Linked DNA regions of Homo sapiens: regions 1, 2, 3 and 5 are each linked to region 4. Evidence: fine-mapped expression QTL. A gene starts in region 4. Each other region holds a variant in brackets. All regions are shown on one strand. Distances are from middle to middle. Region 1 overlaps LPAR3 (lysophosphatidic acid receptor 3). Region 2 overlaps MCOLN2 (mucolipin TRP cation channel 2). Region 3 overlaps LPAR3 (lysophosphatidic acid receptor 3). Region 4 holds the start of LPAR3 (lysophosphatidic acid receptor 3). Region 5 overlaps LPAR3 (lysophosphatidic acid receptor 3).

Evidence for each region. PIP is the estimated chance that this variant, and not a neighbour inherited with it, causes the effect.
Region 1: its variant is fine-mapped to the expression of LPAR3 in whole blood (TOPMed, PIP above 0.99).
Region 2: its variant is fine-mapped to the expression of LPAR3 in blood mononuclear cells (TOPMed, PIP above 0.99). The same link has a PIP of 0.9 or more in ileum, monocytes after R848, spleen and whole blood.
Region 3: its variant is fine-mapped to the expression of LPAR3 in unexposed skin (GTEx, PIP above 0.99). The same link has a PIP of 0.9 or more in minor salivary gland and sun-exposed skin.
Region 5: its variant is fine-mapped to the expression of LPAR3 in whole blood (INTERVAL, PIP above 0.99).

What each region holds. Positions count from the first base shown.
Region 1 is chr1:84,850,917-84,857,059 of GRCh38, forward strand. The region is part of intron 2 of LPAR3 (lysophosphatidic acid receptor 3); the gene reads right to left. Among named protein-coding and RNA genes, the nearest start is that of LPAR3, 39 kb to the right of the region's middle. RefSeq lists an enhancer at 3,507-3,756. The variant T/C (reference allele first, on the strand shown) is at 3,478.
Region 2 is chr1:84,923,887-84,930,029 of GRCh38, forward strand. MCOLN2 (mucolipin TRP cation channel 2) reads right to left here. Exons shown (of 14, transcript NM_153259.4): 13 at 5,672-5,793; 14 at 1,697-2,835. The coding sequence ends at 2,799. Among named protein-coding and RNA genes, the nearest start is that of LPAR3, 34 kb to the left of the region's middle. The variant C/T (reference allele first, on the strand shown) is at 2,755.
Region 3 is chr1:84,839,880-84,846,022 of GRCh38, forward strand. All of the region lies in intron 2 of LPAR3 (lysophosphatidic acid receptor 3), which reads right to left. Among named protein-coding and RNA genes, the nearest start is that of LPAR3, 50 kb to the right of the region's middle. The variant T/G (reference allele first, on the strand shown) is at 2,962.
Region 4 is chr1:84,890,008-84,896,150 of GRCh38, forward strand. LPAR3 (lysophosphatidic acid receptor 3) reads right to left here and starts at 3,199. Exons shown (of 3, transcript NM_012152.3): 1 at 3,009-3,199.
Region 5 is chr1:84,859,463-84,865,605 of GRCh38, forward strand. LPAR3 (lysophosphatidic acid receptor 3) reads right to left here. Exons shown (of 3, transcript NM_012152.3): 2 at 5,923-6,143. Among named protein-coding and RNA genes, the nearest start is that of LPAR3, 31 kb to the right of the region's middle. The variant G/A (reference allele first, on the strand shown) is at 2,951.

The DNA.
Region 1 (6,143 bases), 39 kb before region 4:
AGCCCAGAACCACTGTCACCCAGGCTGCCTCTCCCACCCGCTGTGGGCTGGTGAGATGGTGGCTCCCAGCACTGGGAGGAGGGTATGCCCTGGGGCAGGGGGAGCCTTTACCACAACTTGATATATGACCTGGGGCAGGTTTCCATCTCTCTGGGCCTCCATTTCCTCAGATTTAAAATAATGGCAGCATCACCTTCTAAGAGGATTAAACAGAGTATGTATAAATGCCTGGCACAAAGTGGTGGTCAATTTTTAAAAATCCCTTTTTTCTCAATAGAGTTGTTATTAGAAATGAGCTGTTATTAGAAATGAGACAATTATCCATAAAAATGCCTGACAATTCAAAGTGCTTCATAAATGTCGATTCTCTTCCACGTTCTCCTTCCCAGTCCCTCTTACCTTTGTTCTTGTGACCAGACCCTCCACTAACTGCCAGTTCCCACCCCAGGTCCCACCCAATAAGCATGTTTGTTGGCTCATTATATAAACATTTACTGAGTGCCTACTGTGTGCCAGGCACTGTACAAGTGAAAACACACACACACAGTCCTGTCCCTGAGAAGCTCACAGTCGGGTAAGAGAGGCACTTAGCAAATAAATTTTAATAGAGTGGGTTACTTTTATGAGTTAATTCTTTTAATATATAAATAGTATACTACAGAAGCACTGGATAATCAACTCTGCCTTGGGGAGTCAGAGAAAATATCATAGAGAAGGCAGACTCTTGAGTCGGATCTTGAAAGATGGACAGGAGTTTGCCATGCTACAGAAAACTTCGAGGAGCCTCAGGCAGTCACTGCACATGTGCAGGACAGTGAGAAGCTTGGCATGACAGAAGCAGGGGCTGTGTGAGGGGAGTGCATAGAAAAGGAGGCTGGGAACAGGACTGGGAAAGCAGCCTTGTAATCCCAACTAATTTGGGCTTTATCCAGTTTGGAAGAGTAGACAAGAAAAGATCAGAGCTAACTGTGCTTTTTAGGAAAATGCCTCAGCTGGTGGTGGGGGAAGGCCTGGAGCAAGAAAATGCTGGAGGAGGGAATCCAGACGGAGATGACCGTTAGCAACACACAGCAAGTCTTGGACTAAAGGCGTGTAGTAGGATCTGAGACACCACTGAAGTAGATTTGGTGACTAATTTTTTTTTTTTTTTTTTGAGTTGGAGTCTCGCTCTGTCACCAGGGTGGAATGCAGTGGTGCAATCCCAGCTCACTGCAACTTCTGCCTCCTGGGCCCAAGCGATTTTCCTGCCTCAGCCTCCCGGGCCCAAGCGATTTTCCTGCCTCAGCCTCCCGAGTAGTTGGGACTACAGGTGTGCACCACCACGCCTGGCTAATTTTTGTATTTTTAGTAGATGGGGTTTCACCATGTTGGCCAGGATGGTCTCGATCTCTTGACCTCGTGATCTGCCCTCCTCGGCCTCCCAAAGTGCTGGGATTACAGGCATGAGCCACTATACCCAGCCAATTTGGTGAATAATTTTAGATTTGGTGATTAATTGGTTATAGGTGGTGAGAGAGATGGTACTACCAAGACTTCCAGCTTGGAAGGCAAGGCAGATGAAACCCATTGCAGAGATCCTATTTAACAGGTAGAGCAGGTCTGCAGGGCAGCTGAAGCTTGTGGTGCCTCCAGGACATCCAGGTGTGCACGTGACAGCAGCTGGAAACAGAGATTGGGATCTCCTGAAAGGCTGAGGATGGAGAGGCTGCTTTGAGAGACGTTCACATGGAGGGGTTGGTTCAAGCTGCAGGAGTAAAATCACCTGGAAAGAACTTGGGGACCCAAAGGAGAAGGAACAAAGGGCATTTCAGAGATGGTCAGAAATGGGAGAGACTGGACAAGCAGCAGAGAAGGAACAGAAGGAGGAAGACACTATCAAAGGGAGCATGAAGCAAGCAGGCACATAACAGGAAGGTCAAGGTAGATCACTAAATCTGGCAACTAGGAAGACAATGGTGGCTTAATCAAACACAGTAGTATTAGAGTAGTATAGGAAGAAGCTAGCTTACTACGGTTTGAAGTATTAAGAAAAGAAAATAAACAAGAGTAAAAAAATCAGCGGGGCACACTGGCTCGTGCCTATAATCCCAGTACTTTGGGAGACTGAGGCAGAAGGATCGCTTGAGCTCAGGAGTTTGAGACCAGCCTGGGCAACATAGGGAGACCCCATCTCTAAATAAGAAAAGAAAAGAAAAAAAAAAAAAAACCAAGAACAAAAGTCTGGTAGTGAAGGGAGGGAGAGACAGAGCAGTAGTTAGAAGGGGAGTTAAGGTCAGGGCTTACATTTTTGAACGATCAAGCTCATAGGAAAGCAAGAATAAGGACAAGAGTAGGCTCGTGGATCCCCCAGCTCCTGGCTGGAAGGAATGAGCCCTAGTGAAAAGCTAGGATGGTAAGGATGTGACCTGTGCAGGTGGACTCAGATATGAAGGAAGGGAAATTAAGGGAGTTCATGCCAGATGAAGAAAGCAAAGATTGGGAGGTCAGCTGGGGAATGAGACAGGGCAAAGCTCAAAGACCTTGGGGAAAGTGGCAAGGCTTGATTAAGTGTTGCTCTTGCCTGACCCTGCCTCTGAATTTTAGTTCCCATGATGGATCCCTCTTCCTGCTTCTTCTCTCTCTGCCTCCTGCCAGATTTCCATAAGCTCACGCCCCACTGGCCTGCTTCTCTTCTCCTCCCCTGCAGCCCCGATGGGCCTTCTAGCTGCTGCTGACAAATGTGCCTTCCTACAACATCTACCATGATGGACCAGCTCTGCCTCTCTCTGGCATCTGAGCTACCTCCCATCCCCAGATCCTGGGGACTCTCCTATTGTCTCCTAAGTGATCTCTCCCTCTCCAACCCACCTCTCATCTTTCTAAAACCCTGCTTTGCATTTTGCAACTCCCACCTTCTCAACACTCAAGATCCTACATGGGCTCTTTCTTGCCAGATGAGGCAGTTCAGCTGTGGGCTGAAGACTGGCCACAGGCCTATTTAATTGGGCCTGCATGGTCTTTTAACAAAAAATGAAACTGATTGTCTTTACACAGGGCATGATCTGTCTAGTTAGCCACAGGCACCACCCCTCCCTATTTCCTTATATCCACTCCAGACCCAATTCATATACCCATGTTATCTGCCTAGTCTCTCTTAGATATCTGACAATGAAGTCCACAGGACCCTAGGATCCAAGGCCTTCCAGTCTCTGGCTCCCTTATGTCTCTCAAACCAGATTGTCATTACTATTCAAACTCCTTATTCCAGAAATCAGTCTGCCCAGTCTCCCCTTTCTACCCACGGCCCTGGCATGGCCTCCCTAGACATATGTATACCTGTCTCCCACCCTGCCTTTCCTCCTATCTGCAATGCCTTCCCCTTTCCTCTCCACCTGTTACACTGAAATCAGGCTTATATTCTACCTTCTCAAAGAGGCCTCCATGGACCATCCAAGCCCACAGCATTTTTTCAGCCTAGGCCCCCTCATTCAGCCCTTA[T/C]GTATATTTCTTTGTGCCTTCAGTTATCTTTTTTGAGTACATTTCTCATTTCCTCAAATAAGCCTGGAAATAGGGTTCTCTATTAGTCACACACAGGAAAAGCCACACAGAACAGGTCTGCCTCCATGTCATCTATCTCTCATGTGACACAACCGTTGACTCATAAATCTTGGTCATTTCCTGACAACCATAAACCACTAGAGCAAGCACAGATTCACAGTGCCTTCAGGGTAGAGGCCATGTCTCATAGTTAGTACACTGCCTAAAACCTAGCAAGGTAGTCAATAAATGTTTATGATGAGAAAATATAAAATGCAGAAAAAAACATAAAGAATAAAATAGGTTCACCACTGAGCAGTAAATTCTCTGACTTGATGAAAACAACGCCTGTTGTGATTCACTGTCACTCAGGCATCCAAGGACAGGTATATTTTGCCAAGGCAAGAAGTTGGGACCCACTAGAAGAAGCAGGAACTAGAAGGTCCAGAGCTGCAGCCACAATGCTGCAGTAATTTACAAAGTGAACTTGGTCAAATCTCTCAACAGTATTGATTCTTTGAGGTAATGGGATCTTTCCGCCACATACTCTGCAGAGTTAACAACAATCTGGTGGTGAGGGAGAGCAGGTGGCTGGGCTGGAGGGACAACTGTCAGTGCAGGAGGGAAGATGACTCCTGCCAATAACTCTTGGTTCCCTTACCCCTTATCCCAGCTTCTGTGTTGATCCCTAGGTCCACGACAGGGCATAATTCCAGCAAACACCCTTTACTCCCAGTTCCCACCCAACATGTTTGCCATAGATACACAATGAACATAGTAGTCCCCAGCTGAAATTTTCGAAGTACAATGTTAACATGGAATTTGATAAAATTCTACCATTGGCCAGCACACACCATACTATTCCAGATGTTGAATTAGCCCAGTGATATGACGCCTGAGTCACAGACGATGACCACATTTCTCCTTTGGCAGAAATCAAAGCCCTAAGAGAGGGTGTTCCTGAGTTCTGGAACATGAAACCTTCCAGGAGGCTGGGTGTTGGCAGGAGGGTTGGATGTAGTTGGGTACTGGAACCTCTCCCTATACCTTCTTTTCAAAGAGGTCAAATTTGAGAAATGTTTCTCCACCTTGCACTCAGAAAATATTCAATAATTGTTTGTTTCAGCTTAAGAGGAAGGTTTCAGTTTTCTAAAAAGAAGAAAAGCCAGAAGTTCTGAAGAAGGGGGCATGAGAGGGGAATAAAAGAAGCTGAGTGCATTTGGTGTAATGGAACTGAAGGGGTCTGGACCAGAGGAAATGGAAGAAGTAAGAGGGCAGGGCAGTGGTTACATTGGAAACAAGAACACTGATTTGGGAAAAGCACTTCTAAACTGACTGCCAAGGGAGGTGTCTGAAACAGTGGCGTGGGGGGAAAAGAAAGAACCAAGAGCCAGACTTGAGGTAACAAATGGCTACATATGGCAGAGACAGAAGAAAGAAGACAGACTCCTGGAAATGTGGTGTTGGAAGAGGTGTCAAGATGGCATTTGAACAAGTGGGATGGAGTGCCATATGAGGGATTTTCTTTTTTAATTTGAAGCTGTCTTCCTTCCAGCATCAGACACTGAGGTCATCTCAGTCCCCACGTTCCCCGTCAGAACAGGAAGGGATGTGTCAAACAGCAGCGTAGGGGCAGCAACTGAGTGGCAACTGCATTTTTGCACCCACCGATTGACGGCCTGCCCTGAAAACAATGCCTCCCTCCCATAGGCCTCTGTAGCAATGCCATGAAGCACACAGGAAAATCATCTGTGACAAAGGTGCTCCTGGGACTAGCCATTTCAAGACAAAAGTACGAACACCCCCGGACTCAATGTACTGAGTACTGGTGCCTGGATGGCTTGACTCTGAAAAGAATCACCCTCCTTCTGATATGACTCTCTGCACAGCAACAAGAGAGCCCCTGTGTGCCAACAATCTGTTCATTTCACTCAGCATTTCTTAAGGCAAAGCTTTAACTGTTTTCTTTTTTTCTATTTTAACAGATATTTGATTACTAAGGCATGCAGGCAGTAAACATTGAAAGCAGGCTTCTGTGTTGCAGAAGCAACTACAAGGCCACAGAAGCTGAAAACAAATGTTTCAGAATTCCTCACGAACTTAGGCACATGTACTTTTTTTTTCTCTCTCTCTCTTTTTTAATGGAGTAAGGACAGTTCATCGATGAAGCTTATGAATAATACCAAAAGGCCTGTGTTTTGGTCCCAACTCTTTTCAGTCACAGGGCAAACTTTCCAATCCTAGCAAAGGTGATAATAGCAGCTGACGAACTAGCTACTCTCGAAGGATTTGTTAGCAAGAGGGGGACAGTTTCTTATGAGGACCATCCTATAATAGAGCTCTATACACAAGATGTTGGTGCTGTATCACAGGACTCTTGTCAAGCTAATGCTTTGTGGCCAGGGTCTCATTTATAATGTTTTATTCATAAATGTTGCAAAAGTGAAATGAATTATTAATGGAAAGATCATCTGTCAGAGACAGGAATCATTAACAGAATTTCGTAGGGGAGAGGGTGGTTTATAGGGACTAGCAATGTAAGCACAGAGCTTTTCAGTTCTGTGGTGACCATGTGTTCAGACTGTCCTGGGTCTCCAGTAACAGAGCTGGTACCATTTGCCATCTGT
Region 2 (6,143 bases), 34 kb after region 4:
TCAAGTGAAAAAGCTTTAAGATGTTGTATATGGTTTTGACTGTGTCACCACAAGCCAAGGAGTTAAATTCAAGGGTTGGAGATCCCAGAATGAAACCAGCAGGCAGAAAGAATGTGTCTCCTAACTTTCACAGGGAACCCTCTAAGTGGAGGCCTATGATAAGAGAGAAAATGATTTATCCCAGATGCATCTATTAGCAGAATTATGAGACAACATTGTTCAATAAAATCCAAATAACAATACAGTTGATAAAGTGACAATTGTTTAACATTATTAAAAAGGGAGAAAACAATGTTTCTATAGATGTGAGCTAACCCTGAAAAACATTTTTCTTTCTAAAACTGTTTTGTCCAGCTGGAGGGAAAATAAATAAAAGAAAACATGAAAGCCAATAGAAGAATAATATGAGCATGAAAACCCATCATTAATCTTCTATTCAAATGGCAGTCACAGCTGCAGAACAAATGAAAGCTTTTTTTTTTTTTTTTTTTTGAGATGGAGTCTCACTTTGTCACCCAGACTAGAGTGCAGTGGCCGGATCTTGGCTCGCTGCAACCTCCGCCTCCCGGATTCAAGCGATTCTCCTGCCTCAGCCTCCTGAGTATCTGGGACTACAGGCGCCTGCCACCACACCCAGCTAATTTTTGTATTTTTAGTAGATACAGGGTTTCACCATGTTAATAGCAATTCTTGGGTTGGGCGTGGTGGCTCACGCCTATAATCCCAACACTTTGGCAGGCCAAGGCGGGCGTACACGAGGTCAGGAGATCAAGACCATCCTGGCCAATATGGTGAAACCCTATCTCTACTAAAAAAATACAAAAAATTAGCCAGGTGTGGCGGTGCATGTCTGTAGTCCCAGCTACTCAGGAGGCTGAGGCAGGGGACTCGCTTGAACCTGGGGGGCAAAGGATGCAGTGAGCCAAGATCATGACACTGCACTCTAGCCTGGCAACAGGGCAAGACTCTGTTTAAAAAAAAAAAAAAAGAGAGAAAGAAAAAAAATAGCAGTTCTTTTCAGAGACAAAACTAAGTATATGACAATATACTCAGAAGTTAACAAGTGGTCCAATTACGTATCTGATTCTTGGGTCAGGCAAATGACCCCAGAACCACCAGTTTAATGGTGTCTTAGTTTAAAAATCAAACATAACTCTTCACATATCTTGTAAAAAAGAAAGTTTAAAATAATTTTAGCAAAGTACTCTGTGTGTAGACATGAGTCATCTACTCTCTTATATACTTTAATGGTATTAACTGCATGATTTTCCCTGCCTATAGTTGGTGCAGGCATATGAAGATGGGGTCAGAGCAAGGAGGGGGAAGGTGACATGAGAAGGAAAATTGGGTAGGGGCTTGTGGGGAGGGCGACTGAGGCCAAGGAGAAAGAGGAAGAGCCCTGGAAGGAGGGTCCTGCTTAATTCAAATTCTCCTCTTCACCAATAACTTTAAATAGTTGGCCACTGAGATAGCTCAGGTATGAAATAAGTCTATGCATGAAGTGATCTTCATCTCTCAAGCTATCATCATAAATATTTATTGAATAACTTCTATATCTTAGCCCCTGTATATCCTTCACTGCTTTTAAGAAATTGGGAAATCCCTTTTGGAGACCAAGTGGTTAAGAGAGATGTGATCTGAATGTTTCATTAGGTAGTTGTTTAGAGACAATGCATAAAATAGTAAGAATGCCATATGGAATGATGAAAATAAATTTATTTAGAGAAAATATATCATATTTCTTTTCTAGACAAAGGTAAATACCCAACCCAGCAGAGTTCAATTGTTAAAATGAGTGACCGCTGCTACAGGTCACTTCCACATGTCATGTGTGTACAACTGACCATTAGCACAAGTGACGAGGCAGCCAAATGATTCCATTTCTTATTTATCCCACTGGCTATGCCAACAGTTGCTTCATATCATGCTGAAGAAAACCCACAGGAAAACAGGCCAAGAAATGTCCACTGCATGAGCATGAGGTCTTTTTGTTGATTTAAGGGTGATTTTTTTTTTTTTTTGAGACAGGATCTCACTCTGTCACCCAGGCTGGAGTGTAGTGGCACGATCATGGCTCATGGCAGCCTCCACCTCCAGAGCTCAGGTGATCCTCCCACTTCAGCTTCCCAAGTAGCTGGGACTACAGATGCCTGCCATCACGCCCGACTAATTTTTGTACTTTTTGTAGAGGTGGGTTTTTGCCATGTTGCCCAGGCTGGTCTCAAGCTCCTGAGCTCAGTCTGCCTGCCTAGGCCTCCCAAAGTGCTGGGATTACAGGTGTGAACCACTGTGCCAGGCCAAGGGTGATCTTTAAACAGCTTAATAGTTCACCAGCTTGGACTCTCTAGATTGGTATTGCAACCAGCTTCATTTCTGTACAGACCATGAATTAACAAATGTCTTCAAACCCAAGAATCACCTTTAAAACAAATCCTTATTTGACAATAAACACACATATTTAATTACATGGTTAAAGACTATTATTTCGCACACTCTGAAATGATCTTTTTCCATTCCGAGATCATGTCATAAATTAACAGACTAATAGAGAATTTTATTATCGCTGTTATATTGCACTAATGCCCAGTAGTAGCCCATGGTCTATTCTTTATCATTCAAGTTTATAAAAAGTAAAGCTGGAACTTCAGTCATGGTCAGCTGGCTAACTGTGAGTCCTCTTTCCCACTCCACAATTAAATAAGAGAGTCATTTTGGAACTGCTTGTCCAAGTCATTTGGGGTTCCTCTGCTCAGC[C/T]GCTGGATAAGGATGCCTGAACTTTAATCATCTTTAGCAGAACTTTAGCTAATAGGTATCAAGTGATCATCACTTCTTTTCCTGTAACAGAAAGGGAAAGAAGAAAAGAGGAAAGATACAATACTTTAACATCTTTGAGGAGCAATAGGAATACTCTATATTCTAGGCCCGTAGATTATAGACATGTTGAGTGAAACATAGAAGAGGAAGAAAAATTAAGACAGGCAAGGTATTCTGATTATTTACCAACATTCAGAAAAAATAAGTAAATAAATAAATAAAGGCAATGTACACTGTTTGAGGTTTGAGCAGATGCTTTTGGAAACACTGTGAGGAGTCACCTGTCTCTTAAGAACCTCCATGCCCCCAGGGAGGGGAACATCGCACACGGGGAAATGTTGGGGGGTAGGGGGAAAGGGGAGGGAGAGCATTAGGACAAATACTTAATGCATGCAGAGCTGAACCTAGATGATGCGTTGATAGGTGCAGCAAACCACCATGGCGCATGTGTACCTATGTAACCTGCACGTTCAGCACATGTATCCCAGAATTTAAAGTAAAATTAAAAAAAAAAAAAGAAAAATATATGTTACATTTAGGTTTTACTCAATAAATACATTGGTTTGTTTCTGGAAAAAAAAAAAGAATCTCTGTGTCCCTTCGCTAACAAGGCCTTATAAATTACTAGAACAGCCAATTTTCCTCCTTCACTGCAATAGAGGAAGGTAAAGGTTAACTCTGCATCTGTTCAACCAAGCATCTCTCTCCAAAGAACCACATCGCTTTAGAACTGGAAGAGGTTTCAGAGGTCATCTGGTCCATCTAAGAGGTTTAGGAGAGGTCACAGGACACACTTGGTTAATGGCAGTGTCCAAAATGAAAACCCAGGTGTTCTGATGCTCAGGCTAGAGGCTCTGTCAAAAACTCAAAGGAGAATCAAATGTGTGCTGGTTGTTGGACTGCTTTGTTGAAGAGTGACCACAGCCGTGCTCTGCAGGAAGCAGCACTGGGATAGCAGGTGTCATCTGTCATGGTCACCAGACAGGGGGCACAAAAACCAATCTTTGCAGAGATGAATCTTTATGTTCATCTTTAGCCTCCATTCACAGCCTTCCTCAATTTTAGTCCATTCTTCTGTCCCTAGCTTTTATTTTATTTTTTAAGAGGCGGGGTCTCACTACATTGCCCACGCTGATCTCAAAATCCTGGGCTCAAGCAATCCTTCTGCCCTGGCCTCCCAAAGTGCTGGGATTACAGGCACGAGCCACCATAACCAGCCCCATTCCTAGCTTTTAAACACATCAAGCTATACTTAATTTTAGATGGAGTCAAAGCCATCACTTGTTCTCAAGGCCCCATTACAATCCATTTCCTTCCATCACAGCCTAGGCCCTTCATTCACTCTGCAGGGTCCATGCAAGCCCCCTGGGATCTAGGCTTTGGTCTGATGATTCCACTGAAATTGCTATAGCTGACTTCACTCAGGACCATCGTTTGGCCAAACATAGTTACAGCTACCTGTCTTTGTTTTTTGATATCCTCTTTTTCAAAACTTTCATCATCCTAGTTCTTCAGTTGATCTCCTTGGTGGGCTCTCTTGTTCCCTCAAATTCTTTCACTCTTCATGAGGGGCAGACCCTCCGTCTCACCATGCATCTTCTCAACAACCCTCAGCACACTTTAGGGCAAATGGTCTGCTGCTGTTGCTCCTTGCGTCTCACCACTCAGACCCAATCTTACCCAAACGTCTTGGGGTCCACGCCTTAAATCTTTCACTTGTTCCATAGGGCTGCATGACAAAACATTTAACAACCTCCCAGGACTTTGTGTGGCACAAACCAAGGTCCAAACACCAAAGACCTATCGTTTACTTTTTAGAATTCATGACTACATTTTTCAATGAAGTTTATCCCCCTTATAGTAAAAAAGAGATTTTGAGAGACTTTCCTTATACAAGGTACCTCTTAGGAGGCAGCTGCCTATTAAGAAAATTAATTTCCTTTATCCCAGCTTTCACAGCAACAATTTAATGCTCTGAGAAAAAAAGGTGTGATTCTGAAAACAACTCTTCTCAGATCTCATTTTCTATTTACCAGACATTCTCTGGATCTGCTCAGTCATATCATTGTAAGTCCCAAGATGCTGTATGAATTGATTAACAGAAAAATGCATCCTGTGGTTTTAAATAGCAATTATGTTCTCATAGCTTCCTTCAGGAATTTGGGTTACAGAGTCCTTCCAAAAAGAAAAAACATATGTAGGGTATACTTTTAGTTACAAACTGGCACCCCTGACTTCAGATGAAAGCAAACATAGGCACATTAAAAAAAAAATTGTCTTCACCTGACCCCATTCTAGTCCACAAATCACTATGTAATATGCTTTGTCCACTGAGGTCTAGACCATTTCTCTACATGTCCTGACGAACAACAGGCAAAGCACAGCTAGGCAAGGAAGAGCTACTGGTGTGCACGGATAAGCAAGCACTTGGACAGCCTCTTCGCAAGGAAGTTTCCTGCTCTCATCAAGAAAGATTGCTTGTACCACATACTGTGAAAAGGGAAAACACCTCTGACACTCCCAGAGTTTCACCTCTAAAAATAAGAGCTTTGACCTCTTACTTGGGCCACTTAAGAGTTCAGCCTCTTGACTTTAAGGACATAATTTATGCCTTCTCTTAAGAGTCTTATAGTATTTCTAAGAGATTCCAATCACATCGTGTAGCTTTCTACATAACCCTGTTTTAGAAGAAATAATTCATTTCTAAAGCCAATTTCAGTGGGAGGAAAGAAAAGAAAGGTGAATTATTTCCCATGATAAGCTGGTCTCTGAATGTAATGGTAATCTTGGAGGGGCTCTTTCTTAAGACAACAGAACAGCCCATCTCAGGAGCATGGAGAATAAACATGATACTGACCTCCTCCGACAGCAGATGCAGGACAGGAAGGCTGAGGACTCTTTCTGATACTCTTCTTTGCTACTGCATTCCTTCAGGAATTCCTGCAAATCCGTTTCAGGAAACCCATTCTGTTGGAATTTCTTTAGAAAGTACACAATGTTGTTACCTTATTTATAAGGCATGAGAAATTGCTCTTTTGTCAACAAACCAAGCCCACCTTTGCTAAAATAAAACTCTCCCACATTGCTAGCTCAGATCCAAGAACTGATATTTACAATGATGAATCAATCTGTCAGTCCCAGAACACCAAGGCAGGGCCACTGTGGGAACAGAGAACAATCCAAAGAAAAACTTCAGAAAGAAAGCAGAGAAGAGCCAGGGAGAGGTTTTTTTTAAAAAAAAAAAAGGTAATGAAGGAAATAATCAAAAGTCAAATGTCTAGTCTGGGTATGATGGCTCATGCCTGTAATCCCAGCACTTTGGGAGGCCA
Region 3 (6,143 bases), 50 kb before region 4:
TATCCATAGAGTGCTTATTTAAGCTCCTGGCAAATACAATTATATAAGTGCTTGCTTCTATTTTTAAACAGGGTGTCACTCTGTCGCCCAGGCTGCCCAGTGGCAAAATCACAGCTCACTGCAGCCTTGAACTCCTGGGCTCAGGCACTCCTCCCACCTCAGCCTCCCAATTAGCTGGGACCACAGGTGTGTGCCACCACACCTGGCTTATTTATTTATTTATTTGTAGAGATGGGGGTCTCACTATGTTGCCCAGCTGGTTTCAAACTCCTGGGCTCAGGCAGTTCTCCTGCCTTGGCCTCCCAAAAGTGTTGGAATTACATGTATGAGCCGCCATGCCTGACCAGTGCTTGCTTTTATTAGCATTAGTGTTAATGAAGAAACCAAAAGCACTTGTAAGACTAAATGAGTATCATTAACGCAATTTCACAGGCAAGAGGAACTGATCAAGATAAAGTGACAATTGTCAAATATGTGCTGGTCCTAGAATTAAATATCATCACCCCAAAATTTGTTACAAAGCATCAAATATCTAGCTTAAGGATTCCTTTAAAAAATCTTATAGAAGACTTTTAACAATAACAAAAACCAACAATGGCAGATGAATGAGTTGGCTCCTTGCAAACCCTGAAGAGGAAACAATCCAGAAGTATCAGTCAGAGCCCACTTACTTATACAAACAATAAACTTTTATGCATAAGGACCAAATTTATAATAAAGTTACAAGGAAATGTTTCCTCAGATTTTGAGAATGTTTAGGACCAAAGAAATGCCATTTTATGAGGAAACTTTTCTGAACAATTTAGTCATTGACATTGAAAAAAAACTGCATCCTCAGACTTTGACAGGGGATTAAGTTGTATATTCTTCAAAGTGAAGCTGATGCCTCTTTAAAACAATAATTGTGTTTAAGAAAAGATATAATCAAAGGAGCCAACATTGTGCCAGGATTTTGTAGTGTAATTAAGTATTGCATCCCTTGTCAGGGACACAGTCTTTTGCTCAAAGATTACTGGAATAGAAACCCCATTTCCTGAAAACAGTGGCCGGTTTTTACCAAAGAAGATACAGAAACACAGAAAAGTTTTATTCACTGTAGACCTTCTTCTGAGCAAGCCAAAGCCTTGATCCTCATGTCTACAACATATTGAAAGGCTCACTGGAATTTCCTTGTGAAACAGTTACCAGACCTTTTACCTCAAGTGGTAACCAGTCCTTCAGTTTTCAACAGTTATCCAGGCTTTGGCAATGAAAATAATAAGTATTCACTGAGGGATCCTTTCTTTCTAGATCACAGATCAAAAATGAATTCCCGAAACTCCATTTCCCATTTTTGTGATACATATTAAATCCTACTTAAAACACAGCATAATCATGAAAATTTGTATTTACTTAAGAGGTTTACAAGGACAACCGACGGCCCCTTATGACAATTAAGGTTTGCTTTACTCATTATTAAAAACATTTTGAAACAAAAAAACCCATTACAACTAAAAATCTGGACAGTCCCTGGATTAGGCTGTGGAGTTTGTCCTTTGGAGGAAAAGAAAAGTGAATGAAACCCCCATGAGAGTCTAGGAAATTCTCAGTGGTTCCTGTCAGTCTCCAAGCTTCTATGTCTATACTTTCAGGTCATTTAATGTTACAACTTCATGTTTTGAGATTAAAATCGACACCTTCTATTCAATGTTATACCAGAAAAACTAAAATAAATAAATAAACAAAATAGACATCTACAAGTCAAAGATTCCCTCTTCTATGGTAACTGCTTCTACCTGCACACCCCTCTCAATCAAACTCCCGTGTGTGGCTACACAAACACATATCCTCCATTCATACGGTAACACAGGTGAGGCTCCTGACAAATGTGATTTCACTCCTGACCAAAATTGTTAGCTTCAAAGCACCTGAGGCAGAGTGGTCTGCTCATAAGTCCTTCCCTGGACCCCAGCTCTGGCCAGACTTGAATGATATAAGGGTTGGCATATGATTCCAGTCTGGAGCAGCAGAGTCCATTCCCAGAAAATTTGCAAAAGAAAGAAAGAGAGACCTTGATATACACACTTAGGAGCTACTGGCTGCCATGTTCGGTACAACATAAGCAGAAGAAGCAGGACAGAAAAAAAAAAGTTTGTAGGGGAAGAATAAAATTAGCACATGGAGAGAAACTCAGATGAGAAGTGAAGAGAAAGAATTTCCTGAATAACACAGGGCTTTCCAACACCTAGTTCCAGGATGTTCCTTAGGCATGGTAATCTCCACACCCTTGGGTTGTATGAGACACTAGTGTTCCTCTCCTTTTTCACTTAAGCTGACGTGAGTTGGTTCTTGTTTTTGCAATCAGAAGTATAGTTAATACATTGAATGGACTTCTACATTTAAGTATAGGGCAAGAAATTGAAACACACAGTTCCTTCCAGATAAGTCATAACCACCACTATCGGATCAATCATTTGCTATAGTTCTAGAGTCCCAAACAAAAGAAATTCAGTCACTGGTCAAAAGCCAAAAGGTTTCCAGGGTTTGAAACAAACCTATAACGTATGGTTATGCAAGCTGAATTTTAATCATGCAAATGAATGAGCAGAAATCATTTTCCTTACATTGCCTTTAGCTCCATAAGTTATAGGTTTGAAAAGATGTTTTAAAAGAAATGCACTTAAGTAGATTAGTTTTCATTTTGATAAAATAAAAAGTATTAGTGCAAATTATAAACTTCATCAGTCTGCTTATTCATAGCACTCTTAAAAATTGTCTTCTGAAAAAATTTATCTGCTAAAGTACTTACAAGTAAGCACATTTTTTCTTTATGTAGGCAAATAAGGGTAGACTTGGGAGTTCTTTTCAGAAGTAGAAGATAATCATAACAGTCCTATGTTTGAATTTCAAGTTCAAGATCACATTTGGCATGGATTTCAAAGTCTTCCAGGGGTGCTGTTTTGTTCACAAGGAGGTTTTTCT[T/G]GTTTGAGCTCTCTTGCATAAGACTCTTGGAGGAGAGCAAAGAAGAAAAAAAAAGATTCCCTACATGTTGAGACATGGAAGAATTAGATTGCAGGAAATGAAAGCCACCCAATAAGCAGTGCTTCAGTCCCTGTAAGCATTCCGTCAAGGCAATTTCAATCCTCCCCTTAAAAGATGAGGTCTGAGAGGGGGAGGACCAAGTACTGAAGAGAAAGTGAGCTTCCGCCTTGGTCTTCATGCTGCTTAAAAGTCAATCAAGCCTGGGGTGGGGACAGGGCTGAGCCACAAGTGCAACGCCTGTGGAGGGTCTGGCCTGCAGAAAATCTAACTCCTGTCTTCACCTTCACATTTAAAACTCCATTTCTTCTTTTGTTCCTGTCCTCTTTTGCCCTCCACACAGCTATGCCTCATCTCCTGCTCTCAGGCCAATACTGGAATCCTGAGTAGGGGGTAGTAGTGTACTATTCTTAGACATCCAAGAAACTTCCCAGGCTTGGTAAGTGAAAGTTTCTCTTTGTGACCACCTTCCAACAAACCTCTTTTTTCAACTGTGATTTCTTCTCTCCAATGGTATTAAAACACATTTAATGAACTGGGTTCTTACAAGGCAAAGCAGCAGAAGAAGGACTTGCCAGTCATGAAAGTGTGTTGGTCTAGACTTTTCCAAGCTGGAGGTGCAGTGGGTCTATTCTGCACTGGTATAAGTTTCAACAAGGACAGTCTTGAGCTAGGGAGAGGGGTTGCGTGAAACGCCACACCTGCTGGGTGTTGGCAGAGACTCGCTGATGGATTTTACTGGTTAAAATACTACCCTATGCTAATAACATCACTTTTCTAAAGAGATCTAAGTGCTTCACAAGTTCATTTGCCCAAACATGGCATTCTATAAAGAAAGTAAGTAGCCCAATTATCCTCTCCGGTAAATCAAAAGTCAGTGCAGCTTTGGGGCTATTCCTGGAACCCATCAAGCTGGCTCCTTTCTCAGGCCTTTTGCATCTGCTGTTGCCAGCTCTACCTGGATGGGCTCTCCCAGGTGGCCAGTGGGCTCAGTCTACCCTGCATCTGGGTTTCTGTTTAAGAAGTCCATGACCACCCAGTCTAAAGCAGCCTCCCTACCTGCATCCTACCACCCTTATCTCTCTCCCCACTTTCTTACCAGAGGTCTTAACAATTCTTGACATTCTGTTCTAATTTATTTGTTGATGGATCACCTGCACTAGAATGTAAGCTTATGAAGCCAGGGACTTTGTCTTGCTCATCACTGTGTTCCCAGGGCCTAAACAGGGCCTGGCCCATTGCAGACCTCAGCAAATGTTATATGAATGAATGAATAAGAATGGTGGCCAAATATCTCAATTTCTAGCTTAACATGTGCTCACTGCCCTGTCAGCTTTAATTTACTCTTCTATGCTTCCTGCCCTTGGTTTGCTGACAGGCACTGACAGACAGCTAGATAGTTCTGGTCTTTTCAAATGTCTTGTGCTGCAGCAGAAATGTTTCATTTAGATGTGTGTGAATTATAAAAACCTGATGTTGATGGAAAGCATAAGGAGAAAGATTTACTGCACTGTTTGTGGGAGTGGAGATTGATGCAATCTGTTGAAGGACAATTTAGAGATAGCTTAACAAAATTTTAAACATGCATTTTCCTGACCTACTAATTCTTGAATAAATACAATTCACAAAAATAGACCCAGGAATGCTTGGAGATGTATATAAAACGACCCTCATTGCAGGGATATTTTAATGGCAAAAAATTAGAAATAGCTCATAAAATATCATCAATCAGTATGTAATACAATGTAGCCTTATATAGCCACTGAAGAGAATTAGACATATGTTTATACAGACATGAAAAAATATTCGTATGTTGTCAAGCATAAAAAGATGGGGAACTATTATGACTATTAAGAACACATTTCTGTACAAAAATCATTACTCTGTGAGTACTATACACACATACAACCCCGACCCCGCCACAGTCTTTTATTATTTGCAGGGAAAGTGTCTGCAAGCCAGCATATTAACCTGTTAACAGTGGTTCTAAAATCTCTAAAGAGAGAACTAAGGGGGACTTCCACTTTCTAAATCATATATTCTACAATGTGTACATTTTAGAAACAAGCAAATTACATCCACAATAACAAAAACAATTAAGATTTTAAACTTCATTTAAATTCTAGTGCCAAAGCACTTCAATATTTATAAAACTATTTAAATTCTGAGCTCTGGGCCCAATGTTCACATTAACAAATCTGGTAACTCCTCCAGGCTTTATTTATTCCTGATCCATAAAATGAGGCTAAAAGTGCTTTTCCTTCTACTGCTTAGGGTTATTGGATGGCTAAATAAAATCAATGGGAAGAACATTGAAAAGCATTTTTAAATCACTAAATTAATTCCAAGTGGCCATTATATACATTGTTTAAGCTTCTTGTTAGCATTCTACCTGTATTTCATTGACTCATAAGAATACACTCTAGGAGGGATTTGTGTTACGACTTTTACAGATGAGGAAACTGAGGTGTAGAGAAAACGAATTTCTTTCTTGGAAAGCAGAACTAGAATCAAACACTCAGACTTTATCCCACACTTTATTCCTCTTCCATCTCCCACACTACTCAGAGCAGGTAGGTATAAAGGCCCTGTAAACTATAAATCTGTCAAACATGAAAGGGACTAGGATTATAGTCAGGAGCAGTAATAAGCACCTTTTGAACTAGAAAAGAAAACTGCAGTGAAAAAATTGTATGTTTCTTATCCTGCACTGTGTTGGTCCATCATTACCAAAACCAATTAATCTTTTTAATTACGCTCAAACCTTTTTATGCACTCCAAATTAGAAATCAGAACAGTTTAGGAAAACCTCTCCAGAATATATATTCAAGGTTTTATAAAAAGAAAAGAAAATGCAGGCTTTGATAAACTCAACATGTATTTACTTGAGGAAAAATGAGATTTTTAGAAAAAAGTAGGGGCAAGTGAATTCACCAAGCTGTGAAAAGTATACTTTATCCACTGGGAAGTTTCTGTGAGTTTGCTTGTTACAGGAATACTAGCAATATATACAAACAAGGTACACAAACACAGCGACAGGACACGTTCCACCAATTCCACACAGCCACAATCCTAAGTCATTACTCTTAGCAAAGCCTCATATAAGAGGGCTCATTTCTAAATAA
Region 4 (6,143 bases):
GAACCCTGTGCTCCAAGTACCTCTAGTCCACCGTTTGTAAAAGCACAAAGTCTCTGCACTTATGCAGATAGCTCCCCAGCCCCATCACCACCTCTGCCATCCACAGCAGGACTGAGTTCCAGGTGACTCCTCCACAAATACAGAATCCAGGATGAGGAACAAAGGATCATCAAGGCCGGAAAGGGGGAGGCTCAGTACCTGCAGGAGGAATGACGAAGGGAGGAACAAAAGGCCCATGGCCAGGAAAAGAGAAAGCAAGTAAGAAAAGTGTGTATAACATCTCTAAGTCATCTAAGGCTTAGAAATCTTTGCACTTTTACCAGAATATACATTTGCACCCATGTTTACACAAGTGTTAATACTTAAATTTTTATCTAGGAGGAAAAGAGGGCAACCAGCATTTAAGGAGTACTTCCTGTATATGAGAGACCATGCTCAGTGCTTTCTCTTTTAATCTTGGGAGATGGATATAATCTTCATTTTTACAGATGAGGAAATTAAGACTTAGAGAGGTGAAGCTATGTGCCCAAGGTCACAAAGCTTGGACTGGAACAAAAGCTGGTCTGACTGCAAAGCCTTGGTCTTCCATTTATACTGCATTAATAATGCCTTGGGCCTGGTCTCTGCCATCTAGAATCCTGCAAACAGACTTAACCACTCTGTTGGGTATAATCACAGGCCAGAAAGCATTTGAACTAATGTATACTCCAAGGAGAATGGCTAATGGGTAATCTGAGGTACAGTAATTCCCATTTCAGTTATAGTGATTCCCCTTGCCCCAGCCCAAAGAAATAAGAGGCGGGTCTTAAGTTATCACGCACTGCTGCTCCTCAGCAGCAGGCTGAGAAACTTGGGGGAGAAGCAGCCAGCCTTAGGCATGTGTGTATAAGTGATGTTGAGAGTGTGTGTCTGGGTGCTGCCTGGCTACAATGCTGTGTGTGCATTTCTTCCACTGTGCACGTGTGTTTCTGAAAAATGAGATGGAGAGTTAACATGCTGTAGTTTCTTAAACAGATTCCGGTGAACACACATGAAAAACAATCTCATACTTTAATGTTTTAAATTCAGTCTCCATTCATAGAAAACATATGCAGGCCTGTTCTAACAAATATCTTGCAGAACAGCAAGATATCTAAAATAGGTCTGATCTGATAAAAAAAAAAAGAGTGGTAGTTGATAAATGCAATTGAAAGGTTTAGACAAGAGGAGTGTCATATGTAATTAAATCAAAACCTCAAAGTTTCAAATTCTAAAGACAAAGAAAAAATTTTTGCCAAAATGACCTATTTTCTTAGTTATATGATAGTGACAATCAATGTAAGTGTTGTCCAAATAGTTAGACGTCCAGATCTCCACAGGATAACTAGTTCCTTGCTGTCTCAAGGCACAAGAGACAACTCTGGAAGCTTATCTCAAGTACACAACTCTGACTGGCAGGGTTTGCTCGCTCGTCTTTTTAGTATAGTCCAGTTTGTTTAGACAAGCCTGGGGTTAACAGAGCCAAGGTGTGTGTTTCTAACCGTATCACTTCTGTCCCAAAAAGAGGAAAACTCTGTTTACTGGACTCAGGCCACTAAATATCAGATCCACTGCCCATGGAAAGCAGGGTTAGCAACTGTTGATGGATCAATGGAAAATCCAGCAACTCTTCTCAGCGATACAAAAGTCCATGCATTAATGAAACGTTGTGCGGTACATGGAATTTGTAAAGAGGAGATTGATTGTCTGTCTGTAATTGACATTTACTTTATTCTCTGATACAGACTAAGTTGGAACCGTGAGAAAGCCCTTTATTTCTAAACGGCATCTCAAGACCAGGTAATGCTACTTTCGGAGGAAAAGGAGGAAGAAAAGCGTTGTAATGACAATAACAAATTACGGGGGAAACATTTCGTGGAAATTACTCAGTTTAAAAAACTGACCTAGCCGGGCGCAGTGGCTCACACCTGTAATCCCAGCACTTTGGGATGCTGAGGAGGGTGGATCACGAGGTCAAGCGTTCGAGATCAGCCTGGCCAACACAGTGGAACCCCGTCTCTACTAAAAATACAAAAAATTAGCCTAGCGTGGTGGTGGGCGCCTGCAATCCCAGCTACTAGGGAGGCTGAGGCAGGAGAATCGCTCGAACCTGGGAGGCGGAGGTTGCAGTGAGCCGAGATCGCGCCACTGCACTCCAGCCCGGATGATAGTGCGAGACTGTGTCTCAAAAATAAATAAATAAATAAATAAATAAATAAATAAATAAATAAATAAAAACTAACCTACAAATGCTTTTCAGGGCCATTTTAATGATTACCTTAATAAGACTAAATTGTTTCCAATATTCACAGTCACTCCTCAAATTACATGCGTGCGGAATTTCTAAGCAATTTTGTGTAGCTGCAACTTGTTGAGGGAAAGCAATAAAGTAACTCTGCTACAGAACAAAAGCACTTTTGTCTCGTGGTGGTGAGGGGGCATACCCTGAACAAACAACCCCGACAGTGTTGCTAGTTACTAGTTCCCGAATCTCTAGAAGCCTGCACATGGTTCAAGCTGTTCCCCAGCGGACACAGCACAGTACCAGATGTAACTGGAGGCTGAAAAATGTTATATCCCTAGGCTTCACGAGAGAACCCCAGTTTCCTAATCACCATCGATGGCAATGAGACTGAGTTTGGAAAGAACCACGTGTGCAAAGGCAGACGCAACCCGTGCGGCGCTCTCCTGGCCTCTGCGCCCAGCCCGCCAGCCCTCAGCAGCGGACGCAACGCCGATTTTGCATCTAGATTGCTTTTTGCTCCTAGCGGGGAAAAAGGTGGGAAAAGAGCAAGTTGTGCCATACACCCGCCGGGAGAGTCTTGTCCCGGGGTTTGGAGTGGGTCTGGAGCCCAGGCTTGCACGCCAGGCAACCCCGAAAAGCCGCAGGCTAGAGCCCTGCAGGCGCCGCTGCGCCCCGGCCTCCCCACGACGCACGCCCTGGTGACTGCGGCTCGGGGTACCCTCCCTGCGCCCGGACCCTCACTCACCGCTCACGTTCACCCGCGCCGCCGAGCCCGGGAGCGGGGGCCCCTGCGGCTGCCGCATGCCCTCGGGGTCGAGCGCGACGGGGCGACCGGGCGCCGGGCTCCAGCCGGGCGCGGAGAAGCAGCGGAGGACGCGGCGGGCGGGCGGAGCGCCTCCTCTCCAGCGACCCCTGCGACGCGTCCAGAGCCAAAGGAAAGTTTGGCGGTGCGAGGGAGGGACCTAGGGACAGCGGCCCCTCCCTGCCCCGCCCCGCCCCGCCGGGTGCGTTCGACGTTCCCACTGGAGAGCGTCCCCAACCTGCAAGGCCGCGAGCTGCGCTCAAAGGGGCCCGTGCGAGCCGCGGGAGGGCAGCGCTCTTGCAGACGCGTTCCTGCCTGGGATCGTCCCCAGGTGGGTGGTCGGCCGGCCCCGAGAGGGAAAAGCGCCCACTAAAGGACCGCTAGTACCCACAAGCCTCACGGAGCCATACCTCGGAGCTCCGTATTAGAACGCAGTCCCTCTGCCCCTCTGTCCTCAGAGATTTGTTTGAAGTGGCTGCGGGAAGTGCAGCCCACACCCACCACCCCCGTGGGAGGCAGGCTCTACTCCAAGCCCGACCTAACGCTGGAAACCTCAACCCCAAAGCTACCCGAGGGTGCGGACAGCCCCCAGAGGCAACCAACAATATTTAAGGTTCTTGTAAGAGGTTTCTTGGCCTCCTGGGGCAAATAGTCCTGGATACTTTGTTTTTCAAAGCTGAAATATAAAACCTCCACTGACCCACCTTTAGTAAAGAAGAAAGATGCAAAGTAAAACAAATGTCATGAAGGCATTGTTCTCTCTGAATTCTGCAAAGCAATAACGAAGTCACAGAAATGTTCAAAGTTGTGCTTTCCTGGTGACCTTACAAAAAGGAAATACTGTGAGGTGAAGTCCTTCCCACTCAGACTTCAGGCCCTTAGGAAGCAATGAGAGTTGTGTGCCCAGATGTCTTCCTGTGACCCTTTGCCATCCATCCATCCGTTCATTCATTCATCTTGCATTCACCATTAATACTGCGCCCTTCTGTGTGCCAGCTAGGAACCTCATCCTTGCAAACAACCTGTTAGATAATCTGTCCCCTACCATCAAAGAGATTCTGTTTTCTCTGCAGAGGATGTTTTAATAAGGTTACGTCCCTTACTCCGTGGGTCTTATCCTATAGACCATAATAGCCTAATGTGCCTCAAACCTCCCCGGGGCTACAGCTAAGTTTTCATCAGCATGTGAAAATTATTGTTTCATCTAAGTGTTCAGAAAATTATTGCGGTGTCTTGCAGTTGAACTGTGTAGAGAGAAGTACAACTTGCGAAGCTAGGGCTAAAGAAAGATCATGTGTTTACTTTTACAAGCAGAAGCTTTGCATATGATAAAAAAGCTCGGTGGCAAACATGGTGAAAACCCGTCTCTACTAAAAATACAAAAAGCCGGGCGTGGTGGCACGCACCTGTAATCCCAGCTACTCTGGAGGCTGAGGCAGGAGAATCGTTTGAACCTGGGAGGCGGAGGTTGCAGTGAGCCGAGATCGCGCCACTGCACTCCAGCCTGGGCGACAGAGCAAGACTCCGTCTCGGAGGGGCGGGGGTCGGAAAGAGCTCTCTCTGTCAAGGGAGAGAACAGCTCAGCTCAAACATCACGGTGCTGAAGGGCAACCTGGTAAACACAGAAATACTCAACCACCAGCATTTACTGAATACTTGACGCAACAAAGGTGTAGTATGTTGAGTAAGATGTTGCAGGCTAGACTGTAAACACCACTAAGAGCCTTCTTTTGCTGGGAAAATCTGTTCTGAATCCAAACAACTTACTAACAAAGGCACTTGGGAAACACATTATGTTGCATTATGTTGTACCTTGGGAACTTCCTGAACTCGAGGTAATTGCAAAGCAGAACAGGGATCCCACAGAGTTGAATCTGAATCCTTAAAAAAGGAGGAAAGTGAAGAGGGCATGGGGAGCTGTGTTGCAAAAGGAAAGAGACTTTCCAGATAGATGGTTTTTAACAGCTAGATGGGTCAGATGTGAGGGGAAGGCCAGAAGGTGTTACAGAGAAACAGATTCAGAGAGGAAAAGCAGTGATAAACAAACAAACAAACAAACACCTATGGGGAGAAGCAGGAAAAGAAAAGACGAGGCAAACGACAACTAAAAAGAAAGATGTGGCCCCCAATTCCTAGTTTTTAGAAGGTAGCCCAGGGATTATCCACCAGAACCTCCTACAAATCCTTGTTTGGCCTGTGGTGTCTCACTTCTCTACCGAAATGTTTTTATTAGCAAAGCCAAATTAAAATTAACATCAAAATGGCAAGGATGAAGGCTGAGGGTGTATTTTGTCTTAGAGATCACTGGCTGGAAAGTCATTCAAAACTTTCAACAAACATTTGCTAGTCAGCTTCATGTATACAAGTGTTGTGTTTTGTGTTCCTGGAAACACAAAGAGTTATAACGTTGTTTCTATAAGGAGGTAAAAGGGGCATTCCACAGTGCTTGATAGAATGAAATTGTGATGGCTGAAAGAACAATTGGGGGTGGATGTGGTGGCTCACGCCTGTAATCCCAGATATTTGGGAGGCCAAGGTTGGTGGACCACTTTAAGGCCAGGAGTTCAAGACTAGCCTGGCCAACATGGTAAAATCCCATCTCTACAAAAAATACAAAAAATTAGCCAGGCATGGTGGTGTGCACCTGTAATCCCAACTACTTAGAAGGCTGAGGCCAGAGAATCGCTTGAACCCAGAAGACAGAGGTTGCAGTGAGCTGAGATCACACCACTGCTCTCCAGCCTGGGTGACAGAGTGAGACTCTGTCTCAAAAAACAAAGTAAGTTTAAAAAACACAAAACTGCCTGCCTCCTTCCACAGTGAGAAGCAATGTGGGACTCAGGCAAGGCTTCCTCCTCTCTGGATTTATGGAAAGAGGCCATGTTCCTCTGTCCCCAGCTCACCTTGGGGCTTCAATCATATGGGCAGGAATTCACAGATGTGTTGTTCTTAACTTTGGGAAGTATCTGAACTGAATCTCTGCTGAATTTTGCTCATCTATACTAATTAGCAATGAGGATGCCTACAGCAGGTGGATAGTGTGAGAAAGTGGAATGGGAGCTGTAATGTGAGAGATGA
Region 5 (6,143 bases), 31 kb before region 4:
GTGCTTTCTGGCAGAAAAATAAACCTTGACCCTCAAGATCATGGTTTTTCAAACGTTCTTGACGATAACTCATGATAGGAAATACATTTTATATCACAACCCAGCACACACACAGGCACGCAAAGAAAGGTTATAAAACAATATTGATACCTGTTAAATGCAACACACTCTGACATTTTCTCTTCTTTTTATGTCATTTTAAAAAGTGTTGCTTACAATCTCATCAGTGCATCAAAACTTACAGTTTGAAAAACATCACTAAAGGACAGGAGGGTTCATGGAAGACTTCAAAAGAATGGTTTGCAAGTCCCTTCCCTCTTTCTTTTCTCTTGTATTTTAAGACACTGCAAAATAAAGCAAAGTCCAGCCCATTTTCTGGGAAATAACAAAACATTTCTGTGTGCACAGTTCACATGGTGTGTTGTTTGACAATAAATTAGACGTTTCCATGTGGGGTTTCTTGTGTGTTTGGTTGCTGTAGCTGATTAGGCTTGTTGACAAGTAAGATTTCAAAACCCTTTCTTAGGCAGGGCCTTGGTGCTCTTTGGAAAGCAGGATCGTATGTCTCCGATGTCTTTTCAATGAGAACATTCAATAAGCAACTTTTTTCACATAAAGGGCCCCATCACACATTCTAACCCAGAAGTGAGCAAGCATTTTGCCTCAGGGCTGCTGAAACGGGAACATGATGCCTTGATGCCTTTCCAATCATGCACACACAGATTGAAAACTCACATCACCATCATCACTACCACCACTACCCTCAAGGAAAGAGTCTGAATCCCCATGCTGTTAGCTTTTGTGTTCAACCAAAATCCCAAAGCTGGAAAGGAACACAAAGGTCATCTGGTCTACTCTCCTTCCAAAGAGGATAGCCAACTAAACTTTGCTGGTTCACAGGTGAGCTATTTTTCCACCGCACCACAGCAAGTATTTGTACTCTGTGGGGCCTTCCTCATGGTAATGCACAAGCTTTAAATGTTTCTATCATCACACTTCTGAGTATGCCATTTCTCCCTCTTAGAATGTGTCTTCCTCCAGCCCATGCAAATCCCACCTATCCTTCCAGATTACATCCCAGCCCATTAAGAAGCCGTCTCCACACTCAACAGCCCCTGTCCATCCTTTCCTCTTCTGAAATAAGATTAAGCTCACTGAATTCATGCAACCATGTACCTCTTAGATACTGTTTAATAGACAGTTAATATGTACTTAGAGACTGACTTTCTAATATGTAAAAGAAGAGGGTTCGTAAGAAACTTTAGGATTTAATTTTTTTTTTTTTTTTTTTTTTTTGATACGGAGTCTCACTGTCACCCAGGCTGGAGTGCGGGGGCGCCATCTTGGCTCACTGCAACCTCCACCTCCTGGGTTCAACCAATTCTCCTGCCTCAGCCTCCTGAGTAGCTGGAATTACAGGTGCCTACCATCAAACCCAGCTAATTTTTGTATTTTTAGTAGAGACGGGGTTTCACCATGTTGGCCAGGATGGTCTCAAACTCCTGACCTCAAGTGATCCGCCCGCCTCGGCCTCCCAGAGTGCTAGAATTATAGGCGTGAGCCACCACACCTGGATGGATTTAATCTTAAATGAATCTTTCCTACAAAATATGTATCAAGGAGTAAATGGAAATGTTTAGCATTTTATCATAAAGACATTTAAATCCTCCAATTATTAAAAACATGAGTATTAAGCTATTCATCTCCACATAATCAGAACCAGTGATTAGATGATGGTTAATGCCAGCACTGTTGATTTTTCTAATATACTATCATTTGGGAGATGCTTGTTTCAGGCAATTGAATTCTTACATGTAGTATGTAGGGAACTGGGGGCTTTCTCCCTAGGAAGATACTGTGGTAGGTGCTGCTGTCAAGGAAAGAGGCTCTGTGCTTGGATCCACAGAAATGTTTGGTGCTGCCCCACAAGATTCATATTCTCTCTCTCAATCTCTCTCTCCCTCTCTCTCTCTCCACTCTTCCTTTTCATTCCCACCTTTGGTTACTAACTGTCATAAAGGATAATTGAACTTTGTAACTTGTAAAGAACTTAAAGATGGTCTATGCCACCTGATGAGGGAATCTAACCAAGAAAAGATGAGCTGATGTGCTGCAGATCACCCTTGTAGAAAATGAAAGAATTGGGGGTAAAACCCAAATCTTTCTGTTATCTAGAGAAATCAGGAGCTGGAAGTCTTCAGCCTTACACCACCTAGCTCTTGAGTTTCATTTCCCTCGTCCCTGAACTTCCTGTCTTCCACCAGGTTCCTCTGTCTTACCATTAAGGAACTTCTGAGGTCCTTGACACCAAACTGTCTTTCTTCCATTAACCAATTCCCCAATGTTGTCTTATCTCAATTGCATGACTTCTCTTATCCTACTTGGAAATTTAATTGTTCATTCTGGTTTTTCTCTTAGTCAATACCACACCTGCCAAAACCTCCCAGCTCCTTTCTTTTAACCCCTTCCGTAACTGTTGCAGACAAAATTACATACAAAACTGAAGTTTGTGACCATGACTGTCTCACAAAGGGTCCTGTTCTCTCCACCTAGGATTTTGGAATCCTTGTCTCTATCATGCTGTATACTATATTATAATATGATGAGAAAAGAAAGTTTTCTTTTTAAGCAGGCGGGTAATTTCTCAAGACACATAGCCAAGCAAATGATTATGCCTACAAGTTAAGCAGGGACAGCAGCACAGTTCATTGACACTATCTGTAAATACCAAAGTTCATTCTTTATCAAAAACATCAATATCTTCTCCAGCTCGAGGGGAAATGCCGATTAATGTGAACCCTCTTTTTCTTGTTCTTGTCCATTTTCTTATCAATGTGTCAACGGTGTCAAAGCAGAAGACAGGACAAAAAGATGAGCGTAAAAAGTCCAGATAAATCACAAGTAGCCACAGAGTATGGTGGTAAATATGTGAACTCTAGAGGCCAGCTGC[G/A]CAGTGAGTCTTGGTTAACAGCTGAGTGACTGGACACACTGCTTAAACTCTCAGTTTCTCCATCTGGTAAATGGGTATAATAGTAGCACCTATCTCACAGGGTTTCCATGAGAATTAAATAAGTTAATGTTTGTAAAAACACTTAGGACAATGCTTGGCACATATTAAGCACTATATAAATATTTGTTAAATAAATCCTCAGTTTGAAATTATTTTAACAATCACACTCTGTGTCTGCTGACCCCCAAATCTTACTAGCAGTTTCAGGACCTAGAGGCATTGTGAGGGTTTCTATACCACACCACACATACTGTATCCTCCACTATGAACTGCTACCTGATAATTCATTTTATAATTCCTTCTCATAAGGAGTAGACAGAAATGTACTCCTGAATCTCTCTCAGCAACAGTCCCCATTGCTGCAGCCACACACACAGTGAGAAACGGCCTCTCTGCCTTACAAGACAAGTTCTGTGAAACCACAAAAGTTCTTGTCTGCCCACACATTACAAATTCTACCTGTAACCCAGAATTAGAACTGGGGAGGTGGGGCAATAGGCCACCTACTTCAGAGAAAATAAAACAAAGGGAAAATTCTACGAAACCACATGTCTTCTTGGTACAGGGCTCACAACCTTTCTCTCCTCCCTTTTTTTTTTTTTGGTTTTGTTTTTGTTTCTTAAGACAGGCTCTTACTCTGTTGTTCAGGCTGGAGTGCCGTGGTGTGATCACAGCTCACTCAACCTCAACCTCCCGGGTTCAAGCGGTTCTCCCACCTCAGCCACCCAAGTAGCTGGGACTACAGGTATGCACCACCATGGCCAGCTAATTTTAGTATTTTTCATAGAGATGGGGTTTCACCATGTTGCCCAGGCTCTTCCTTTCTTTCTCAATTTTACTCCAATCAGGCTCTTGGCTATACCAAATGTGATGATCTCAAGATCAGCACAAGTCCACCACTTTGGTAAGGCCAGCAACACCTGGTCTTACACCACCTCTCAGGGGTACCAACACTGCTAATGCTTCCTCTCCTCGATTGCCTTCTTCTCTTTCTTCTAGTTCCCCAGAGTCTCCTGGGTTTTCCATCCCTTCTAGGGCTCCTTTGCTGGCTGCCCCTTACCTCCTGACCTCCTTACACTGGAGGGCCTGCCCTACGGCTCCATCCTTGGTCCTCCTCTCCTTCATATCCACATTCACGTTCATGGTGAGCTCACGCAGTCCTGTGATTTAAAATACCAGTTTCCCCCCAGGACTCTCAAATGTACATCTCCAGCCCAGACCTAAATCTTGAATTCCTGAGTCAAACATCCAACTGTCCACTCAATAAAATTGCCACACCCCTTGGATGTCTAATAGGTTCCTAAATTTAGCTTGTCCAAAACCAAATCTTCCCCCAAAACCTCCTCCTCTTCAGTCTTCCTCATCTTGGTTAATGACATTCCCCACCTTCTCCTCCACCTCTCATCTTCCCCTCTACCTTACCCATCAGTAAATCCTTTAAAAAATATCTGGAATCTGGCCAGGTGCAGTGGCTCACACCTGTAATCCCAGTACTGTGGGAGGCCGAGGCAGGCGGATGGCTTCAGCTCAGGAGTTCGAGAGTAGCCTGGGCAACATGGTGAAACCCTGTCTCTAAAAAAATTACAAAAATTAGCCGGGCCTGGTGGCACAGGCCTGTAATCCCAGCTACTTGGGAGGCTGAGGTAGAAGGATCACTTGAGGCCAGGAGGTGGAGGTTGCAGTGAGCTGAGATTGCACCACTGCACTATAGCCTAGATGACAGAGCCAGGTCCTGTCTCAAAAAAAAAAAAACAAAAAACAAAAAAACAGAATCTGACCATCACCTTCAACTACCATCTGGCCATGGTGATCTCTCCCGAGTACTGAAATACTCTATTAACCCATTTATGCCAGGGGTTGCAAATTTCTTTTGTGAAAAATCAGAACTTGTCAATGACCTTGAGCAGTAGGATATAAATAACTCCCACAAGCTTAGCATTCCAATAATGGAACACTAGGCATAAATAGGTTAAACAATTTTCCTGTTTTTGCTATTGCCTCATTACAGCAGTGTCTTAAAACAGTAGCCAGAGAGATACCATTAAAATATAAGTCAGATCATGTCACTCCCCTGTTTAAAACCTTCCCATAGCTTCTCATCTCACTTGAGACTGGCCCAGCCAACATGGAGAAACCCCATCTCTACTAAAAATACAAAAATTAGCTGGGCATGGTGGTGCGCTGCCTGTAATCCCAGCAACTTGGGACGCTGAGGCAGGAGAATTGCTTGAACTCGGGAGGTGGAGGTTGCAGTGAGCTGAGACGGCACCACTGCACTCCAGCCTGGGTGACAGAGTGAGTGAGGCTCCGGCAAAAAAAGAAAAAAGAAAAAAAAATGAAAAGCTGAAGTCCTTATAACCACATGACCCTACATTATCTGAGTAGCCCATCCCCTACCCCACCAGCTCCCTGACCTCATCTTCTCCTACTCCCTCTGCTCGATCCATGCAGCCATAGTGGCTTCCTGGCTGGTCAGGGCTCCTGTGCTTACCGCTTCTCCCACCTGGAACACCCTTCCCCAGACACCAGTATGGTTCACTCCCTGACTGCCTTCACACCTCTGCTCAAAAGTCATCTTCCAGGCATCCCTCACAACACTTTTTTAAAGTGCAAACGATACCTGCTTAGCTTAGCACTCTCCAGCTCCCTTCCCTGCTTTATTTTTCCTTCCTTCCCTGATTGATTTTTCCACAGGAGACTCATCTTATTTCACTTAATTTGTTTACCCCCATTAGAATACTTATTTTATCTTTCCTTATTAGAGTGTAAGCTCCAGGTGGGTGGCGATTTATGTCCGTTCTTGTTCACTGCTGCATTCTTACTGCCTAGTAAGTGCCTGGTACACCACAGATGCTCCGTAAAGATTTGCTGAATGAATGGGAATGATGGCTTGCTTGGGTCCTCTTACCTACCTAAGACAGTCATCACCGTCTTCATTAGCTTCATGGGTGTCCTCCGGCGGCTGATGGACCCACTTGTATGCGGAGACAAGACGTTGGTTTTCCTCTTGACGTACACGTAGATCCGCAGGTACACCACAACCATGATGAGGAAGGCCATGAGGTTGGACACTGTCCAGAAAACAAGGTAACTCCTGCTGTAAATGGGGGCCAGGGAAGAGCAGGCAGAGATG